5 linked regions of the Homo sapiens genome follow. The protein of the gene in region 5 purifies or fractionates together with the protein of the main gene of each other region. This does not show direct contact. Each region holds a gene or a part of one and is shown on either strand. Other genes may lie near its edges. The genes, in order: SUPV3L1, CAT, HK3, NADK2 and BCAT2.

Region 1 (3,950 bases), on a different chromosome or scaffold from region 5:
ACTAAACTTTGTCAATCTGGACCTTCACTTGCATACCATTCTCTGATCAAAGAACTCTGTGGCTCTCCAAAGCAATAAAGTAGGGCTTTTTTTAATGCAGTTTTCATGGCACAAAATTTTCTTTCACTTATGTCTGTATCCAGAAATGTGTCTGAGGTGAGAGTCTGGATGGTGGGTGAGGGAAAGAATGACTCTCCTCCACAGAGAAGCAGTAGTTAACATGTTACCTCTTACCCTTATAGGATCCACAGGCCTCTTCAAAATTTCCTTTAATAAACTGAGATCTTCATGATTCATTGTTGTAACCTCTCCTTCTTTAAACCGTGAGCTGAATCTGCCAGCTCTGCCAGCAATCTGCAGGGCTTGAGAGGTTGTGATTGGTTCTAGTTCTCTCTCTCCCTTTTCATTGATACTGGGCTTTATAAGGGAGTAAAAAATAATTCTCCTTATGCTCCTGAAACAGAAATAAAAGTGATCCTGCAGACTGTATGAAAAACCCTCCAATACTTGGGTCATTGCATAATGCTCACTCCAATACTAGCTTAGGTCCTCTTGCAACCTTGACTGCCACTTACAAAATTAAGGAAAGTCTGGCACAGTGGCTCACACCCATAATCCCAGCACTTTGGGAGGCTGAGGCAGGAGGATTGTTTTGAGGCCAGGAGTTCAAAACCAGCCTGGGCAACATAGCAAGACCCAAGTCTCTACAAAAAATTAAAAACATCAGCTAGGTTCAGTGGTGTGTGCCTGTTGCTCTAGTACTCGGGGGGCTGAGGCACAAAGACCGCTTGAGCCCAGGAGTTTGAAGCTGCGGTGAGCCATGATCACACCACTGTACTCCGGCGTGGGGCACAGAGTGAGACTCTGTCTCAGAAATAAATAAATACATAAATAAATAATATTTAGGCTTAACATTGTTATCATTTAGAGATAATAACTAGCCCCATGTGCATAATAGGCACTCGGACACCTGACTGAGAAACTGAAAGTAAAGTGACGTAGTACAATAGGTTAGCAGTAGTGGTGGGCAGCATTCAAACGTCCTAGTGTGGGCCGAGTGTAGTGGCTCATGCCTGTAATCCTAGCACTTTGGGAGGCTGAGGTGGGAAGATCACTGGAGGCCAGGAGTTAGAGACTAGCTTGGGCAACAGGGTAAGACCTTGTCACTACCCAAAAAAAAAGAAAATAACCAGGCTTTGTGGTGTGCACCTGTGGTCCCAGCTACTCTGGAGGCTGAGGCAGGAGGATCACTTGGGCCCAGGAGTTCAAGACTGCACTGAGCTACAATTTGATCACTGCACTCCAGCGTGGGTAAAAGAGCAAGACCCTGTCCCTAAGAAAAGTCCTGGCACTATTTAATATTTTCTTTTTATTTCCCTCAATAGGTGTAGGCAAGACAAACCTCAAATCTAGCCTATAATATTTATTCTCCCAAATCATAGCGTTTGGTCATTAATGCCAATTAGAAAACTGAAAAACAAAAAAACCACCATTTAACTCACCAAATATTCATCTTATTAAAAACAAATTACTTACAAATTAAGTCCCATGCCAATTGCATCTGTAGCAACCAAGATTTTGCATGGGTCATTGGGATCATTAAACTTTTTTGCTTGAGCAAGTTTGGTCCCTAAAACAAGAACAATTTATGTTAAATCAGTGTTCTCAGTCTTTTATTACATCAAGCTAAGTACATCTTGGAAACCCTCACCTCCTGTTCTTCCCATTTTTAATGATAAAACCTTTACTGTTTCAAACTTTATTTCTTTATATCCTCAAAGAGCCACTTATCCTTTACATCCATTCCTTCAAATACTCCGTCATATAGCAACACAATCCCCCACCACACTAGCCTTATTCCTGAGGACACAGATTTCAGGACTACAACTTAAAAGGACATGGTCAAGACCAGATTTCAATGACATTTCTGTAAGAAAATAATAAACTCAACATTTAAGATACAGTCTAATAATAGCAGCAACTAACAAGAACTATAATTAAAATACTTCTATTTCCACTAAGATGAAATAGAAAATTATTTATTTTATATGACGTTTAACAAATTACCAATACATCAAGCAGCTTAATTCAATATTGTTTACCATTTTTTTATATATATCTCAACATAAATTGCAAAGATAGGAGATTTCATATCTTGTCACGAGGAAAGTCAATAATTACCAGGTGGGAGACTGCCATATATAACAGCTGATTCTAATCCCCGAATTTCAATCTGCCGACTCACAGAATAAATATCATTCTTGCTAAAACAGACAATGCAGTCCCCAGGCCGAAGGTTATCTAAAGATTCTAGTGCATGGTCCAGCACAGAAATGGGGGTAAGCCTCTTATAGTCTCGAACCTACAATAAAGACATGAAATGGCAAAATGACACACCCAACTCAACTTCTTGTGACTAGTAATTAAGTGAAAAGATTGTAATGCAGTTAAGAGTAGCTAAAAACTGATAAGTACCAATGTTTTTCAAAAGAAAACACAGAAAAACATTTATTTTGATATTATAAGTGTTACCATCACTTCTCATTGGCATCTCTAAATTAATAAGATGAAACAGAGTGTTTCACCTGTTTTCAAAGCTTTTTCTCATATATTTCATTTTCACGGCAATGTGTTAAGTTCAGAAAGGTTATTAACTGCTATTTCCATTTTATAAAATAGTAAAACTGAGCCCAATAAAAAATTAATGTCTGAGGCACATTTTGCAAGTCTAACCTTCTGTGACTTGTCTAAAGAATGCAAAGCTAAGAATGGCAAAACACAGAATGGACTCCAAAATTTCTTCCACTATATTCCACTATCTCTCCTTGAAAACTGAGCACAAAACTAAAATAACAGGCTAATTCAAAACTATTTCCTTGGCTTATGCTTATAATCCCAGCACTTTGGGAGGCCAAGGTGGGAGAATTGCTTGAGCACTGGAGTTCGAGACCAGCCTTGGTAACACAGTGAGATGCCCTCTGCTCAAAAAATAAAAAATTAGATGGGCATGGTGGCAAACACCTGTAGTCCCAGCTATTTGGGAGGCTGAAGTGGGAGGATCACTTGAGTCCAGGAGGCTGAGACTGCAGTGAGTTGTGATTGCACCACAGCACTCCAGCCTGGGTAACAGAGTGAGACCTTGTCTCAAAAAATAATAATAATAATAATAATTCATTTTACTATAGAACTCTGGTAAAGAAAAAGAGAAGCAGGATTAAAAGGAAACCAGTTACTTCCAACTCTAAGAATTTCAAAAAGGAATATAAACTGTGTCTGGCAATTAGATGTGTATCAAAGGCCCCAATATCTGACATACAACACTTTGAAAACGACAAACTTGCTGGGTCTCCAACTTCTAAGAGTACTGATTTATTTAATTCGAAGAGATCTACTCAAGCCCCACAAGGTTTTGTCAAGAAGTGAAGAATTTCCTGTACTCTTGGAAGACTTAGGGTGTGATGACCACTCTGTCAGAACTTCAGATCATGAGGTTCAATCAAATATATATGGTCTAGTTGATCACAAGAAAATGAAGCTTTCTTTTTAGTTAAGTTCTGACGCTGGCATTATCTAGGGCCTCTGAAGCCACTGCCTAGGTACTCTGGACTATTTGATATGCCACCTGGAGAACAAAGCATCTAATCGAATACCTCCACTTCCTCCCCCGTTGTGTACATAAGCTCCATCACCAGGTCAATAGCAGCAGGTTCTCCACACAAATGAACCTCTTCAGCACACAGTCCTGTCAATGCAAAACTGGGTTTCTTAATTTTAAAGATTTATAATTAAATATACAACATTTTACATAGCCAAAGTACTTTACGTTGGCTTACATATTGCTTTACAACCTTACCAAGTATTTTCAAAAATATTATCTCTGATGCAAACCTTGAAATAATCACCAACTTCTAATGGGCAAAGATTATCCAATTTTTATTAATCTCAGGCCT
Region 2 (3,950 bases), on a different chromosome or scaffold from region 5:
AGAGACATTTGCTATCTTTAAAACATTAATACTATAATCCACCTTACCAGTAACAGTTTACTTTTAGTGACAGTGAAAGCCATTGACTTTTTTTTTTTAATTGAAAAGAGATGTTGCAAATAGCTGGTGTACATTTCTTGAGATGCACTAAACAAGGTAGCGCACTTGAAGATCGTGGCAGTAATAAAGCGTTTGTAAGTTCTGAGTAAAGTATTGACCAGCACAGCTTCCCTGGAGACCGTCTTCTCATTGCTGGATTGGACATTTCACTGTTAAGCTTGTAGGACGCTTTTGGGCACCTCTCTGACTGGGAGCTTTGCAGAACCCAGTGGCTTTCTCTGGAGCAGGTGCTGAGCACATTTTCAGGCTCCAAAATCATCTTTCTGCTCTTCAGAGCAAGTTTCTTAGCAGATTAGTGTTGAGATTTGTCAAGGGTTTCTGGGGCATCACTAAAAGTTTCAGGCAATGGCCCATCCTGTCAGATTTTAGTACTTTGGACACAGGAAATTAAAAAAGAGGGCAGATGGTATAAACATTGCAAAGCTATGTACCCGTGACAGTGTAAATGAAAGGTTTGATTGTGCTAACTCTCCTGCACTTTCTTTCTGTGTTCCTGTAGAAAGCTGATGTCCTGACCACTGGAGCTGGTAACCCAGTAGGAGACAAACTTAATGTTATTACAGTAGGGCCCCGTGGGCCCCTTCTTGTTCAGGATGTGGTTTTCACTGATGAAATGGCTCATTTTGACCGAGAGAGAATTCCTGAGAGAGTTGTGCATGCTAAAGGAGCAGGTAAGTGCTGTGTTTATTTGCTGTAAAAAGATTGTTTCACAGCACCTGGGTCAAGTGTTATTTCCCAAAGGATTGGAAGACCTTTAACACAAGTGTCAAATCTCCATTTGTGGGAGAAAGGAAAAACATCCAGCAGTAGGGAAATTAGTAAATAAATGATGGTTATTTCCTCAGGTTAAACATTATATATAAAATAGTTTCTTTTAAAAATAGCAGTCTTCCATTTCTCCCATCATTGAAGGAATAAAAATACAATAAGTCCTCACTTAACATCAATAGGTTCTTGGAAACTTTGACTTTAAACGACATGTAATGAAACCAATTTTATGATAGGCTAATTGACGTAAGCAAGAGTTAAGTTCCTATGGCATATTTCTGATTGATAAAACATCATCAAACTTCTAAATAGAGACTCAAAATACCTCTTATATTAAACATTGAAATAAATGTGAGCCATACATACCTTTAAGAAAGATTAGTAAAATAAGATAGTTATTTACTAGCTTATTCCAGTTCAAGGTGGTGGGAGGCCAGAGCCTGTCCTGGCAGGTTGGGGTACAAGGCAAGAGCCAGCCCTGGACAGGATGCTGTCCATTGCAGGGTGGACTCACACTGGGACCATTCAGACATGCCAGTTCACCTAACACGCACATCTTTGGGATGTGGGGGGAAGCTGGAGTACCAGGAGAAAACCTATCTAGACATGGGGAGAACATGCAGACTCCACACAGATGGTGGCCTCAGCTAGGAATAGATTTTTTTCTCATCAACGTTATAATGAAACAACGTTGAACAAAACAATGTTGTTTGAGGACCTGCTGTACAGAAATACAGACATAGACACATGCACTGCAATTGCAACTAAGTTTAAATGATGTACTTACTGGGTAATTACTGGAATGAGCTGCAAAATTTGGGGTAGTTATGTTAGGGTGGTGGGTTTGTGATGATTTTTCCTTTCCTTTTTTCCAACAATTTCTGTAAAACTTTCTTTATCGCTGTTATATCAGACACAAAAGATGGGGGTGGTATTTGAAAGAAAGTGAAAAACTCAGTTGGAAAAAGAGCTCCACAGAAAGGAAGTTTTTCTCTTAGCTTGCTGACTTGGACTTCCAGTTAGGACTTCTGCATTTCTTCATCTCTTCTTCCTGGATAAGGTTTCTCCCCATCTTCTCCAGTGGTTTGTGTGTATTTTTCCATCTTGACTTGTTTAGTTTATTGCTTGCTTTGTATCATCGTTGCTAAGTGTTGAAAAGATTCTTTCTCTTATGTTTTCATCTCCTCTTCTCTCTGTTCTTCACTTTCTCTCATAGGTCCTACCTGTACTTCAGGCCCCTCTGAGACCCTGTGTCCTTGGGCCAACCTTGACGACTTCTAGCCTCACTCACCTCCTTCTCTTGGCTCCAGCTATGTGGCATTCGACTTAGCACTGAATGATAGAATAGGGCTTTGCATTTCACCCTCTTTATTTTGTGTTTGGGCATTTCCCCTTCCTCCAACATACTGGAAGCTCCCAGAAGGCTGGTGCTAACCATCATTTTCTCTTGTCACCCAGGTGCCTGTTGAGGACCTGAATGTCTGAGTAATGGTCTCATGGTAAGGATTTCTGTGTCTTTCTCGTTAGGGGCCTTTGGCTACTTTGAGGTCACACATGACATTACCAAATACTCCAAGGCAAAGGTATTTGAGCATATTGGAAAGAAGACTCCCATCGCAGTTCGGTTCTCCACTGTTGGTAAGTTGGTTTATTGGCGTGATTGGTATGGCTTAACTCAACTTCACCTTTTGGGGATGTTTATAACTTAAAGAAAAAGTTATTAGAAAATAGGAAGCAAGCACTTCTCCAAATTATGTCAAGGTTTTACAGTAGAAGACATATTTGGAGACACATAGGAAGTTACTTGTATTTCTGTTTGTTGAGGTCTTAGGAAATCACACTTACACAGAGGCTACCTCTGCAATTCTGTGACATTTGGAAAGAGCTTTCCTAAAAGTGGTTGCCTCTAACAGAAGAATAGAGTGGAAATCTTATTTAATAACTATGCCTACAGCTGACCTTTATTGAGAATTAATTCTGTGCCAACTGTGGTTAGGTGCTTTACAGATATAATCTCTGATTTGTAGATCTACTTTGCAGAGTGGGATTCTTTTTATTTTTGAGAGGCTAAGTGATGTTTCTCACGTTACAGAGATAGTATTAGATCTATCATACTATATTTCAACATACCTAGTGCTTCACTAGTTCCGTTTCTGTGTCAGTCTCTGCATTTTAAAAATACTGTGGAATGTAAAAATAAATGAAATTAAGAACTAAGAACCAATATTTTAACTCATTTTCTTAATGTTAACCTCATCATTTTGACAACTCACTTATTCTGTTTGTCACTACTTTAAGCCTCATAATTATTTTCTTCCCTTATTTTAATTAAAAGTTCAATTACCTGTTTGAACAAAGTTATCTTATTATGGTAAATGAATGACATTGTCAGCTGTTATTACATGTGTTCTCTTATTGCTCTCAATTAATTATTTTGTTTGATTTGTGGACTGAATTAGCTGGTGGGTAGAAATAATAACCCGGGCACTTAAATACCTAATTTAGTTCTTGGAAGTGGATTAGAAAGGATGGATCCAGGTGCTTCTTTATGTCTCCAGGCTTCTTGGATGCAAAGTGCTGTGGCTTATGCTTCCTGTTTCCATTTGAATATTGTAGCTGGAGAATCGGGTTCAGCTGACACAGTTCGGGACCCTCGTGGGTTTGCAGTGAAATTTTACACAGAAGATGGTAACTGGGATCTCGTTGGAAATAACACCCCCATTTTCTTCATCAGGGATCCCATATTGGTAGGTAATAGAGTATTTTGCACTCAACAAATGTTTGTTGACTTAAATTGATTTCAAATAGGTTGGCATTTGAGGAGAAGCCGTGGGAAAGGCAGAAAGAAAAGAATGCGAGTTGTCTGGACTACTTTTTTCAACACATTTTTCTGTATTTAATAAGATAAAGTAAGAACAGTTACCATTGGTCTTAGATTTGTCATTTTAAGACAGATTGACTTAATGGGAAGTGAGTTTAGTTTTCCTTGCAGAGCATCGAAGATTAGTAAAAAGAGGGACTTTACTTTGGAAACAAGCAGAGGGTGTCTCTACATGCTCTGA
Region 3 (3,950 bases), on a different chromosome or scaffold from region 5:
CCAGGGACCTCATCCCTGTGAGCAAATACCCTCCCCTAGATGACTCTCTCACCCATCCTTCAAAGAAGCCCCAACAGCCTCCCTGGATTCATTGAAGGGTCACAGCCTGGCAACTCCATCCTCCTCAGGCTCAGACTTTCCAAAGCCCCCACTTCCTGTCACACAGGAGTTCCATTTCAATGACCTATTGCCCCAAACTGGACACTTATCTTTGGAATAACAACTCAGGCACCTGGATAATAAGGCCGCTCCAGGGAGGAGAGGCTGGGAGGAGAAGCTGCCAGTTGAGGGAGATAAGGACAACTCAGTCCCACCTCTTGCTTTAGGAAGAGAATGGGAAACAGATCCCTAAGAAGGCGAATCATCCTAACTGGGGTGCCAGATGTCCACTTACACGTTTGCCTTACAGCACATGCTTCCAGCAGCCATGCCTGCTAGGGGTGCCCATGCCCACTCTATCTCACCCTGACCAGGCCTATCTGGTGACAAGGGAAAGAGAAGCTGAAGCCAAGCTGCAGACCCTGTTTGCTCACAGGCTGCACATCCAGGAACTCAGGCAGTGGGCAGCAAAGTCAAAGAGCTGCAGGACAGGCGGGGTCTCAGCCTTGCCCCTCTGAGCCCCAGCTGCCCAAGTGTTAGAAATATGGAAACGGAGACTCCGAGAGGGCAAGTCATCTGCAGGGCCAAGCAGCTGTGAAGGGGCAGGGGAGAATTTGAACCCATATCTACCTGAATGCAGAGATGTTTCTATGTCAATGTGAAGCTTTATAAAACCTAGAAAGTTCCCTTGAAAAGAACTCAAGGCTGATGAAAGTTGCTGGAAAGAAACCCCAGATGATCCGGCTTGAGAAAACTTACAGCTGAGTCCTCGCACTCCCTTTTTCTGGCTCTGCAGTCCTGGGAAAGTCACACCTCTCTCTGAGCCTCAGTCACCTCTTCGTGCAAAACTGAGAAAATAATAGTACTTGGAAGTCCCCCAATGCCAGGGACTATGTCTTGCTCAAGGCTACATCTGAGGGCCACGAGGAGCACCAGCTGGAAGCAGGATTTGTTGATTGGATGGTTGTGGTGGCATAAGAATTAAAGGCTGTAATGTATGTGGAAGTGCCAAGTGCCATTGGGATGGGAGGGGCGTTTTAGTATTGCTTCATGAAAACAGTAGAGTCACGGAGAAGTCAATGGCTTGGGCAAATTGTTTTTCTTCCTTTTCCTCTTGGGCATATTGAGATGTTCGGGAGGAGAGACTAGAAGACAGCAGAACTGCAAGAAAGACAGAAGGACTTCCCTGGCAGATCCTGGTGAGGCACACACAAGCCAGGAGAAGCTATCGGAGCCACCCCTGACACCCCAGGAAGAGCAGGGAGAGACCTCAGACAGAAGAGCAAGGAGAAAGGCATTAGAGAGCATGTGAAGTCCAATGTGGTTTCAACACTGGCTCTTGTCACCAACTTGCTGTGTTGCTGGCCTGGGCCCATCACCTCACCTCTCTGAGCAAGCAACCCCTCTATCTAGCAGGAACAATAGTACCTACTTCTCAGAGATGCCATGAGGACTGAGACGACAGCAAACCTGAAGTGGAGGAACAGTGTCACACATAGGAGATGCTCAGTGGAACACGGATTCCCTGTCCTCAGAGCACAAAGCACACCCAGCCTGGAGAGCCTGACTCCATACCCTCTCTGATGACAAAGAGAAGCCTGGTGGAAGGGGTGGGGAAGGGCCTCTGAGATGGTACTGGGAACTGGCCACACGTGGTTAACTAACTTTTTTCAACCTAAGGTCATGGCAAGGGGAGCACAGGGTAAGGCCTGTGGTGCTGAGTTGGGGGTCCAGGACCATGGGAAATTTGGTGTCCCTGTGAAGTCCCCCAAAGCCGAAAGGGATTCTTTCAACCGCAGGTGTATGTGATGGAGCCAGCAGGGCAGATGTGGGCCTGCACAGGAGTGTCATCAGGGAGGGGCAAGAAGCGAGGGAGGAGATGACAGCAGGCCCTAGAGCCAGTCCTGGCTGGGCAGGCACTGTGGCCCAGCCACCGCTGTCACTCCTGAGGCACGGCTGTGGGTCAGGCACAGAAGAACTGTCTGCAGCAGGGTCTGGGGTACAGGTTGGACAAGGGGGAAGTGGGAGCATGAAATGCAGCGAGGGGTAATGCCTCCACAATCTGGGCAACAAGCCTAGTCAAGTGGATGTCAGAATATGCCAGAAAACTAAAGAAACTGCAGAGAATGACTCAAGTACCCTTTAGTGGGCACCTCCTCTATGCAAGTCCTTTTTTTTTTTTTTTTTTTGACAGAGTCTCGCTCTGTCACCCAGGCTGGAGTGCAGTGGTACGATCTTGGCTCACTGCAAGCTCTGCCTCCCGGGTTCACACCATTCTCCTGCCTCGGCCTCCCGAGTGGCTGGGACTACAGGCGCCTGCCACCATGCCCAGCTAATTTTTTGTATTTTTTAGTACAGACAGGGTTTCACCGTGTTAGCCAGGATGGTCTTGATCTCCTGACCTTGTGGTCCGCTCACCTCGGCCTCCCAAAGTGCTGGGATTACAGGCCTGAGCCACTGCGCCCGGACTTTTTTTTTTTTTTTTTTTGAGATGGAGTTTTGCTCTTGTTGCCCAGGCTGGAGTGCACTGCCACAATTTTGGCTCACTGCAACCTCTGCCTCCCGGGTTCGAGCGATTCTCCTGCCTCAGCCTCCCAAGTAGCTGGGATTACAGGCATGTGCCACCATGCCGGCTAATTTTGTATTTTTAGTAGAGACGGGGTTTCACCATGTTGACCAGACTGGTCTTGAACTCTTGACCTCAGGTGATCCACCTGCCTCGGCCTCCCAAAGTGCTGGGATTACAGGCGTGAGCCACCGCGCCCGGCCATAGGCAAGTCCTTTATCTCCATTAGCCTTCAGGGGGTGGGGAGGATTAGACTTTATTTTCCTCCATTTTACTGATGAGGAAACAGAGACTAAGAGATATGAAATGGCTTACACAAGAGTTTCCTGCTCAAGGGTGTGGTATGAGACAGCTTCTAAATCTTGGTCAAGATGACAGAAAAAGAAGAAACTCACTTCTGAGCAAGCCTCAGGCATGAGTTTGGCACTAAAATCGTCTGTGTGCCTGATTGTAGCGGCTACATTGAGGGAGACATGCAGGAGGAACTGGAGAGGCGGGAAAGGAAAGGTCTCAAGAACACAACTTTTGACCAGATAACCCTGAGAAAGTCCACTCTAGACTGTGTCACCCACTTGGGGCGGGAGCGGCACCTGTGTGGCAAGGTGGCAAAAATGACATGTTTGGAGCTGAAACACCTCAGCTCAAGCTCCTGTCATGTCTTAAACTCAAGTCATAACACTTCTCTATATCCCTCTTCATCACCTGTAAGATGATCAGCCCAACCTTGCAGTTGTTTGGAGCATGAAAGGAGATCGTTACCAGCTCAGATATGAAAAGCTCAGTGGAAAGGGGCTGCATGGGTGAGAGCCCAGGGCCCCATGGCAGCTTCAGTCACGCTGCTCTTGAAGGCCTTAGACAAGCATGAAACAGGAACCCAGTGCTGAACTTACCAGCTCTGAGCTGTCTGAGGGCCCGGGCAAGCCCTCCTCAGAGCAACTCAGGGTTTCTTCCCCCTGCCGCAACCCTGAAGACCCAATGGAGTCCATGAGCTTCCACAGTGGAAGGTGGCCACCTATGGGAGAAAAGGGACAACCTGGGTCAACCATTTACTCTATAGGCCCTAGGAGTCTGTAACCCAGACCAACTTCCTTCCTTCTGAAGGGGACCAGGAAGGAAGCTGGGAGCAGAATTCAGAACCTCCAACCATCAAAGATCCTGTAGCAGTCAACCAGAAGGCCCTTGTTTTTCACAAGCATGTCTAATGAGAGAGCACTGGAAAGGCTGATTTCAGTCCAAATGCCATTCGTTAATTCTGTCATTCATTGACATTCACCAGTTCCTGATG
Region 4 (3,950 bases), on a different chromosome or scaffold from region 5:
TTTATGACATGTTTAAGAAATCTTTTCCATGTCAAAATCACAAAGCTATTCTCCTATTAGCAAAAACTTAAATATAAGTAGTATATATCTTTGAAGGAGTCTTTGTCGTCTCACCCAAACTGAGTACACATCTGTGGATTAATCAAATTAACTCTCAAATGACAACATGAATGTTAAGATAAATTTCCTTATTTGTGTCTAACCTGGGGAAAAAATTAATTGTATGTCTATAAAAAGAAAATATGTACACTAAGGTCAGCAATTTGTTAATTGCTTAAGCTGTTTTCTGCTTGCCATGAGATAGATGACATTTTCTCCGAATTTTAGATTTTCTTGTTAATTTGGAAAATTGGGGAACCTTTACAAAATAAGAAATTACATCCACTTTTTTATATCCTCTCTCCCCAAAAATAAAATGAAGCAAATTCAATAGGCAGGAGGTCACTTTTAGGGAAAACCTAGAAGAAATGAATACTATTCTAAAGGTTTATTGCTATGCAATCTAAGTTTTCTATCAGTGTTTATTGTGTTTTTATTCTACAGCTTATGAAAAAGAAGGGGCTTTCTATTCAGCTTCTTTTACAATTATTGTGTCTTCGTTCATTTTTTAAAAACCAACAAATCACTGAAATAAATAACTGTACCCTTTCTAGTCACTTAAGTTTTAGCTTCTCTAAAATGGCACAATGAGTGTAAAAGAAAATATGATTTTAGCCGGGTTAGCATGATACCTTGTTACTTTCACAGGTTCTACTTTTCCTGCTAGATTAAGTTTGAATGAGCAAATTTAATGAAATTAAATAGTTTTCAAACCAAGTGGGCTTTGTAACAATGAAAGGGATGAAAACAGTCAGAAGTCAGATTGAGGATGCTTACTTTGAGGAGAAACAACGCTGACGACTGCTTGAGAAAACTCTATTTGCTATTGGTTCTCGAATACTGAAAAGTATTTTTGGTTCTTCCGGACTGTAGAGCAGTGATTCATTATATTCATTTGTTACTACAAAGAAAAAAAAATTAGCACACTCAATAAAAGATGGTCACTTCTGAGAAGGGCAAAACAAAAAATAGATGCCATCCCCCATTTAAATTCTGTTCCAAAAGTATATTTGGGAACAAGTTTCTTGAAACTCGTAACACATATTCCATTAAAACACAGTAACAAAAAACCTTATAAATAAGAATTAGGTACCATGATTTGCCCACAGAAACATACATCACCCACAATACAGTAGGAATAGGTACAACTGGGGAAAAAGAAAAAAATAAAAAACACTAGCTTCAAAACTTGTAATTAAACAATAGAGGAATTAGATAGATGCACTCAAAAAAGGAACTTGAGTTGCCATATGGCCCTACCAAGTTCTTTCCAAAATACCATGTCAAAGAGCTCATAACGATGATAATAAGCAAACAGCTTGATATAAAATGCAGTCTCAAACAATGACAGGCAATATCCTTTCTCCAATACACCCCCATTACTCAACATATTTTCTAGAAATCTTTGGGACCTGCTTTCTCTCTAATCAAGAGGTACAGGAGGGCTGGAATACAAAGCACAAATTGGTTGAGAAAACTACAAAGATATCAGGCTTGAAAGTTTAGTTGAGTACTACATTAAAAAAATTAAAAGACTGTCAGATAATCTACCTTATTTATAAAAGTTTCATTTGAATTACTGACTTTAAAAAAAATCTAATTCACCCACAAAAATAAAATTTGGCTTCATGAGAACACACCACAAAAAAGCATGCTAGCTCTGAAGGAAATTTCAAGAGTAATTTCATAAATGTCTGTAACAGTGATTGCATCACTGGCATTCACTGTTGCTTCTGAAGATAGTCAAATCTTGAAAGGAATGCCATTCATTAAAGTAAAGCTTTGGTATGTTTACTAAAAGAAGAAAGTCACAGATATTTTTATATATATATAGATATAATATAAATTAATATATATATACATCCTTAATTTATATATATACCTGATATAAATTTCAGTTATTTTATATATATTATTTTTTAAGTTGAATTATATAATTAAGAAGCAATTACTATATATACCTAACTTTCCTTTGATACAGATTTACTGCTGGTGCTAATTCATGAACCATGATTAAAATAATCTTGTAGGTCTCAAATTGAGTGAAGGAGACCAGAATCCATTTTAGAAGGCTGAACGGGGCTTGAGAGATTTGCTTCTTTTTTCAAACTATTTTAGAGGCAAACTGTCCCCCCAACAAAGGAGGTCTTATGTGGAAACCTAACAATAAAGATAAACTGACACTGTTCAAATATTGTATCAGGTTATGTTCTCACTCATAGGTGGGAACTGAACAATGAGAACACATGGACACAGGAAGGGGAACATTACACACTGGGGACTGTTGTGGGGTAGGGGGTGGGGGGAGGAATAGCATTAGGAGATATACCTAATGCTAAATGACGAGTTAATGGGTGCAGCACACCAACATGGCACATGTATACATATGTAACAAACCTGCACGTTGTGCACATGTACCCTAAAACTTAAAGTATAATAATAATAAAATTAAAAAAAAGAAAAAGATATTGCTAACTCATGTTAAGGTAACCAATGAGAATGAGGCCGTTCTGATAAATCCAAGCATTTGTGTTTATGGATGACAGTTGCAGTCTTACATGTGTCAATATTCACTTGGTGTCTATATATTTTTTGTCATATATGTTGAGAAAATACATAGGTTGGTAGATGTAACTTTAAACACATTTGGGTTTGGAGTTTTATAAAAAACAATCTAGCTTGAAATTTTAGGATATCCTTCAATGCAGAGAGCAAAAAAAGCTTTACTTTGAGGTGTGTACAAGAATGATCCTGGTAGATAGTAGACTTCAGTGTGTTACAATCTGATACGCAAATCAAATGAATGTGTTTTTCAGTTTAAAAATTTAAATTGTTTTAAACAGAATTTAAAGAATACATTTGAAGAACTTCTACAAACACCAGCTAGATGATCTACTTTAACCCCCTCTTTTTACAACTGTAGAGGATCACAGCCTTGCCCAAGTTTCACAGCTGATGTAGTAGATCTGGAAATGGAACCTACGATTTCAGATTTCTTCATAAGTATTCTTTCTCTAACAGCACTAATTCTCTTACAGGAATCGTGAGGTAATCAGGCAAAACTAGGGAGAAGAATGTTAAAAAGAATATTTGAGTGAATAAGAAGATAAGCACTCATAGCTCAGTGAATTCCATCTCATTCAGAGGATATTAATGGCTTACTGAATTTAGCTATGCATTTCCTATTTGTGAGATAAGGATTTTTCTGTAATTCCCTATCCCCCAGGACATGTTTGCAGTTATACTGCTTTGACTTAAGAGTTATATTTCAGGGTTGACTAAAAATCACAACAAAAGTCCAACTTTAATCTTTATGTTGCTTAAAGACATTTAAGGGGATATTGTATTAAAAGCATGTTTGAGTAAAAAAAAGTACTTTGCTAATTAAACAACACTTCACACTATCATCCTTAAAACTGAAACAGAACTAAACTGTTAGTGATTATTATCATTTGTCACTGACCTTTCTCTACCAATTCTCTGTTCAATGGAAGACTCAAATTTCCTTGTCGTTTTGCTGTTGAAAAAGGAAAGGGGGAAAATGTATGTTATAAATATATATATCTTATATATATATTTTCCTTGAAAAAGGGGGAAAAATGCTTAAAGTGTATATGTGTTATATATATATATGTTATTATGTAACATAATAGCTAATATAAAACAACATGTATACATTATATAGCATATTATCATAAATAAACAGTAGCCCCCCCTCGCCCTTATTAGCACTTTTGCTTTCCATGATTTTGCTTTCTTCCAGTTTCAGTTACTGGCAGACAACCATGATACAAAAATATTACATGGAAAATTATAGAAATCAACAATTCATGTTTCAAATTGCACATCAT
Region 5 (4,654 bases):
TGGAGGGGGAGACGCAGAAGGCCCTCTTACTCTTGGCCCTCAGGGAAAAGGAGTTTTCCTCTCACTGCCTGTAGAATAGGAAGGTGGCTGGCAAGAAAAGTCCAAAGGGAAGAGAAAGTAGGGGGTTGAGACATCTGGATCAGAGGGAGGAGGGGCTGAAACTCCTGGGTTTTGGTCCGCAGGGCACTGGGGGACGCAGACTCCCCAGCTGGACCCAGGGGGGGGGCAGGGCCCGGGTGCGCTGGCGTCCCCCAGGTGAGGGGTGGAGCTGCAGGGCTGCTGCGGATTGGCTGTGGCCGGGGGGGCGTGTGCACCAACCGCTGATTGGCCGCGGCGGGGGCGGGAGCTGTCAGTGGGCCCCGACCCTACAGCCCGGGGCTGGCGGGTGGGGCAGGAGGACTGGGGCGGAGCGCAGAAAAACAGGGCGACGCCCTGTGAGGGAAGGGTCCCGCGGTTTGGCTGTTTGGGCCTGTGGCTGTTAGGGGTGGCAGGATAGTGACCCGGGGACAGGACTTGGGGGCACTGTGGGGGTAGAATTTGGAGACAGAGTGTCCCAGGGTAGGATTGCCGAGACACGATGGCCGAGGGATACGATTTTTTTTTTTTTTTTTTAATTTGAGACGGAGTCTCACTCTGTCGCCCAGGCTGGAGTGCTGTGGTGCAATGTCGGCTCACTGCAACCTCCGCCTCCCGGGTTCAAGCGATTCTCCTGCCTCAGCCTCCCGAATAGCTGGGATTACAGGCCCCCGGCACCACGCTCGACTAATTTTTGTATTTTTATGTATTTATTTTTATTTATTTATTTATTTTGAGACGGAGTCTCACCCTGTCACCCAGGCTGGAAATGCAGTGGCGCGATCTCGGCTCACCGCAACGTCCGCCTCCAGGGTTCAAATGATTCTCCTGCCTCAGCCTCCCTAGTAGCTGGGATTACAGGCGCACACCACCACACCCGGCTAATTTTTGTATCTTTAGTAGAGACGGGGTTTCACCATGTTGGTCAGGCGGGTCTTGAACTCCTGACCTTGTGATCCGCCCACCTCGGCCTCCCAAAGTGCTGGGATTACAGGCGTAAGCCACCGTGCCTGGCCTTAATTTTTGTATTTTTAGTAGAGACGGGGTTTCCCCATGTCGGCCAGGCTGGTCTTGAACTCCTGGCCTCAGGTGATCCACCCGCCTTGGCCCCCAAAGTGCTGGGATTACAGGTGTGAGCCACCAAGCCAGGACTTTTTTTTTTTTTTTTTTTTGAGACGGAGTCTCACTCTGTCGCCCAGGCTGGAGTGCAGTGGCATCATCTCGGCTCACTGCAACCTCTGCCTCCCCGATTCAAGCAATTCTCCTGCCTCAGCTTTCCGAGTAGCTAAGATTACAGGCGCCCGCCACCACGCCCGGCTAATTTTTTGTATTTTTAGTAGAGACGGGGTTTCATCATGTTGGACCAGGCTGGTCTCTAACTCCTGACCTCAGGTAATCCGCCCGCTTCGGCCTCCCAAAGTGCTAAGATTACAGACCTGAGCCACTTCGCCTGGCAGGGACCGTATTTCAAGTCCTGCCCTCCCACCAGCGCCTGCGCCCCGCAGCAGTGTCCGGCTCCCTGCCGACGCCCTGGAGCTGGGACGGCCTGGGGCGCTGGTCGGCCGCCTTCCCCCAGAAGGAGGCGTGAGCGGGGCGTGGCCGGAACGTCTCTCTTCGGAGCCGCGCCCCGGGCGGGCACAGTTACGCGCCGCACGGATCATGGCCGCAGCCGCTCTGGGGCAGGTGGGTTCGCAGCCCCGCGCCGGGGTCTGGGAAATAACCGGGGGAGGCGCACTTCCGGGAAGACCACTGGCCTGCAGCCGGTCCGACTCGGCGCCGCTCCTCCCGCCCTGGGGTTCCGCTGCAGGGCGCGGAGGAGGATGGCGCCCTTTGGAAAGGAGCACGAGGCTTTAATGGGGTGAGGGGGAGCAGGTAGACGCGGATGAGGTGGGGCAAGTAATTGGCGGGGAGGTAAAAAAAAAAAAAAAAAGGGAAACATGGTGGAGGACCCTGTAATGAGGGAGGCGTGGGGGTGGGGAGGTTGTGATTTGGGGAGCGGAGCCCTGGGGTGCGGTGGGGCATCAGCCTGTGCGGGAGCTGGAATAAAGGGGCCCAGACCTCCAGGGCCGGGTGCAGGTGAAGGCAGAGTTGGACCTCAAGTCTCAGCTCTGGGAATTGGACTCAAGGTCCTATTTTCTTGGAATGAAAGTTGAAAAAAATAAGAGATGGGGATTGCTGTGCTTCCCAAACTCCTATCTGAAGCTTTGCACCTGGATTGGAAATCGAGGCAGCGTCTCATGGTCAAAGTGACAGATGCTGCAGGCTGGCTGAGACGATCCCTTCTGACTGTGCGATGTCAAACAGCAGCAGCGTTTCCCAGAGTCTATGATTTCAGAGAACAAGGTTTCTCAGTGAGGAAGGAAACAGCCAAAGAAAGGGGTCATTACAAGCCTTCACAGCTGCGGTGTAACCTTGGGAGAACTGTCTGTTAACTTTACACCTGACTTTATTTGAGTCTCTTATCCTAGCTGATGAATGTCAGGGCAGAATTTCACTTTTTTCGGCTCTTAGTGACTGATAGGGATAGTCCTGGGATACCTGGGGTATGTGGGCAATCTGGGCTTTAGTGGTGACACTCCTGGACTGTGGTGGGGCAGTACTGGGCTTTGACAGGTCCACTTGGGACTGATGTGGACCGTCTCATCATGGCACAGTTCTGGTGTCATAGAATGGCCCTGAACTCATGATGGGACATTCCTAGGCTCTGATGAAGATAGAGATATCCTGTAATGGAGATAATTGGGCTGAGTCCTCAGCTGTGATGGGGACAGTCCCGGGGTGTGGAGAGGACAGTGCTGGACCATGGTAGGGACAGTCTGGAAGGTACTGGCCTAGACAGCAACATAGGGATAGTCCTGGGGATTGAAAAAGACAACAATGGGATTTTTTTTTTTTTTTTAATTTCAGACCTGGTGAATAGGAAATAAGCCCTGATATTTGGCAGAGACAATGCTGGTTATAATGGGGAAAAGTGCTGGGCTTTGGATAGGGGACATTCCTGAGCTGTTTGGGACAGTACTTGGCTCTGCTGGGGACCAGTTCTGATAAGTTACAGGCACAATCTGGACTTGTGATGTGGAGCATCTTGGGCCATCATAGAACAGCCCTGGTCTGTGATGGGGGAGAGTCCTGGGCTATAAAGGGGGCAGTTCTAGACGTGATGGGGTCATGTGTGGGCTGTGACAAGGGCAGACTGCGGTATGATGGGGTCTCTCCGGGGCCGTGATATGGGGACAGTCCTGGAGTATGGAGGGCACTGCTGGGCTTTGACAGTGACACTCCTGGTCTTTGATGGTGATACTCCTGGGCTGTATGGGACATAATGGAGGTTCTATCACATTATAGAGACCTGCCCTGTGAACCCCCAAACGTACTTTATTTCTTTGTCTCGTCTTTTCTTTTTGACCGAGTCTTGCTCTGTTGCTCAGGCTGGAGTGCCGTGGCACGATCTCGGCTCACTGTAACCTCCGCCTCATGGGTTCAAGTGACTGTGGTGCCTCAGCCTCCCGAGTAGATGGGCTCAAGCGATCCACCTGCCTCAGATTACAGGCATGAGCCACCATGCTGGTCTTTTTTTTTTTTTTTTTTTTTTTTTTTTTTGAGAGACACTCTATCACTCATGCTGGAGTGTAGCAGTGTGATCGTAGCTCACCACAGCCTTGACCAGTAGGTCAAGGTGATCCTCCCACCTTAGCCTTCTGAGTAACTGGAATTACAGGTGTGTGCCACCATACCTGGCTAATTTTTAAATTGTTTGTAGAGACAGGGTCTTGCTATATTGCCCAGGCTGATCTTGAACTCCTGGCCTCATGCAGTCCTCCCACCTCTGTCTCCTAAAGTGCTGTGATTACAGGCATGAGCTACTGAGCCAGCTGCCTACTTTCTTTCTTTGTTTTTTTTCTTTTTAATTGAGACAGAGAGTCTTGCTCTGTCGCCCAGGCTGGAGTGCAGTGGCACCATCTCGGCTCACTGCAACCTCCGCCTCCTGGGTTTAAGCAATTCTCCTGCCTCAGCTTCCCAAGTTGCTGGGACTACAGGCGCCCGCCACCACACCCAGCTAACTTGTATTTTCTGTAGAGACAGGGTCTCCCTATGTTGCCCAGGCTGGTCTTGAACACCTGGCCTCAAGCTATCCTCCTGCCTCGGCCTCCCACAGTGCTGGGATTACAGGCGCGAGCCACTGCGTGTGGCCTCTTTCTATGATTAGATCTATTTTGGCATCTCTTGTTTCTTGGCGTCAATTTCTGTTTTTGTTTTTTTTTTTTTCTGTTTGTGCGCCCCTTTCTGTGTTTCTTTTTCTCATCCTTCCTCTTCCATCTCTTACTCTCTTTTTTTCATCTTGGCTCTGAGGGCAGCTCTCCTGCCCACAGGCTGGCTGTCGCACTGTGTTTGTGTCTCTCATACTGTGGGTGTCCTATCCCTCTGGGCAGAAGCATGGCTGCAAGGCTGAGCAGTCTAGATGTCGCCACCCAAAGGCAATCTGGGGACCCACGCTCTGATCACCCCGGAATCCCTGGAGCCTCACACCAGCAAGACCACGCTGCAGGCCCATCTCCCAGCAACTCACCTAGCGACAAGT

The links.
Region 1: the proteins of BCAT2 (region 5) and SUPV3L1 fractionate together in Homo sapiens (co-fractionation; one large-scale study listed by BioGRID). This does not show direct contact.
Region 2: the proteins of BCAT2 (region 5) and CAT fractionate together in Homo sapiens (co-fractionation; one large-scale study listed by BioGRID). This does not show direct contact.
Region 3: the proteins of BCAT2 (region 5) and HK3 fractionate together in Homo sapiens (co-fractionation; one large-scale study listed by BioGRID). This does not show direct contact.
Region 4: the proteins of BCAT2 (region 5) and NADK2 fractionate together in Homo sapiens (co-fractionation; one large-scale study listed by BioGRID). This does not show direct contact.

What each region holds. Positions count from the first base shown.
Region 1 is NC_000010.11:69,196,784-69,200,733, reverse strand, and holds part of SUPV3L1 (ATP-dependent RNA helicase SUPV3L1, mitochondrial), read right to left. Parts: intron 3,743-3,950; coding exon 3,651-3,742; intron 2,363-3,650; coding exon 2,182-2,362; intron 1,631-2,181; coding exon 1,537-1,630; intron 455-1,536; coding exon 235-454; intron 1-234. UniProt on the Homo sapiens protein: Major helicase player in mitochondrial RNA metabolism. Component of the mitochondrial degradosome (mtEXO) complex, that degrades 3' overhang double-stranded RNA with a 3'-to-5' directionality in an ATP-dependent manner.
Region 2 is NC_000011.10:34,448,573-34,452,522, forward strand, and holds part of CAT (catalase), read left to right. Parts: intron 1-619; coding exon 620-791; intron 792-2,415; coding exon 2,416-2,526; intron 2,527-3,504; coding exon 3,505-3,635; intron 3,636-3,950. UniProt on the Homo sapiens protein: Catalyzes the degradation of hydrogen peroxide (H(2)O(2)) generated by peroxisomal oxidases to water and oxygen, thereby protecting cells from the toxic effects of hydrogen peroxide.
Region 3 is NC_000005.10:176,892,509-176,896,458, forward strand, and holds part of HK3 (hexokinase-3), read right to left. Parts: intron 3,678-3,950; 5' UTR 3,652-3,677; coding exon 3,556-3,651; intron 1-3,555. UniProt on the Homo sapiens protein: Catalyzes the phosphorylation of hexose, such as D-glucose and D-fructose, to hexose 6-phosphate (D-glucose 6-phosphate and D-fructose 6-phosphate, respectively).
Region 4 is NC_000005.10:36,196,665-36,200,614, forward strand, and holds part of NADK2 (NAD kinase 2, mitochondrial), read right to left. Parts: intron 3,617-3,950; coding exon 3,563-3,616; intron 1,001-3,562; coding exon 877-1,000; intron 1-876. UniProt on the Homo sapiens protein: Mitochondrial NAD(+) kinase that phosphorylates NAD(+) to yield NADP(+). Can use both ATP or inorganic polyphosphate as the phosphoryl donor.
Region 5 is NC_000019.10:48,808,088-48,812,741, reverse strand, and holds the start of BCAT2 (branched-chain-amino-acid aminotransferase, mitochondrial isoform a precursor), read left to right. Parts: upstream 1-1,712; 5' UTR 1,713-1,734; coding exon 1,735-1,758; intron 1,759-1,904; exon of another isoform or gene 1,905-2,398; intron 2,399-4,505; exon of another isoform or gene 4,506-4,654. UniProt on the Homo sapiens protein: Catalyzes the first reaction in the catabolism of the essential branched chain amino acids leucine, isoleucine, and valine. May also function as a transporter of branched chain alpha-keto acids.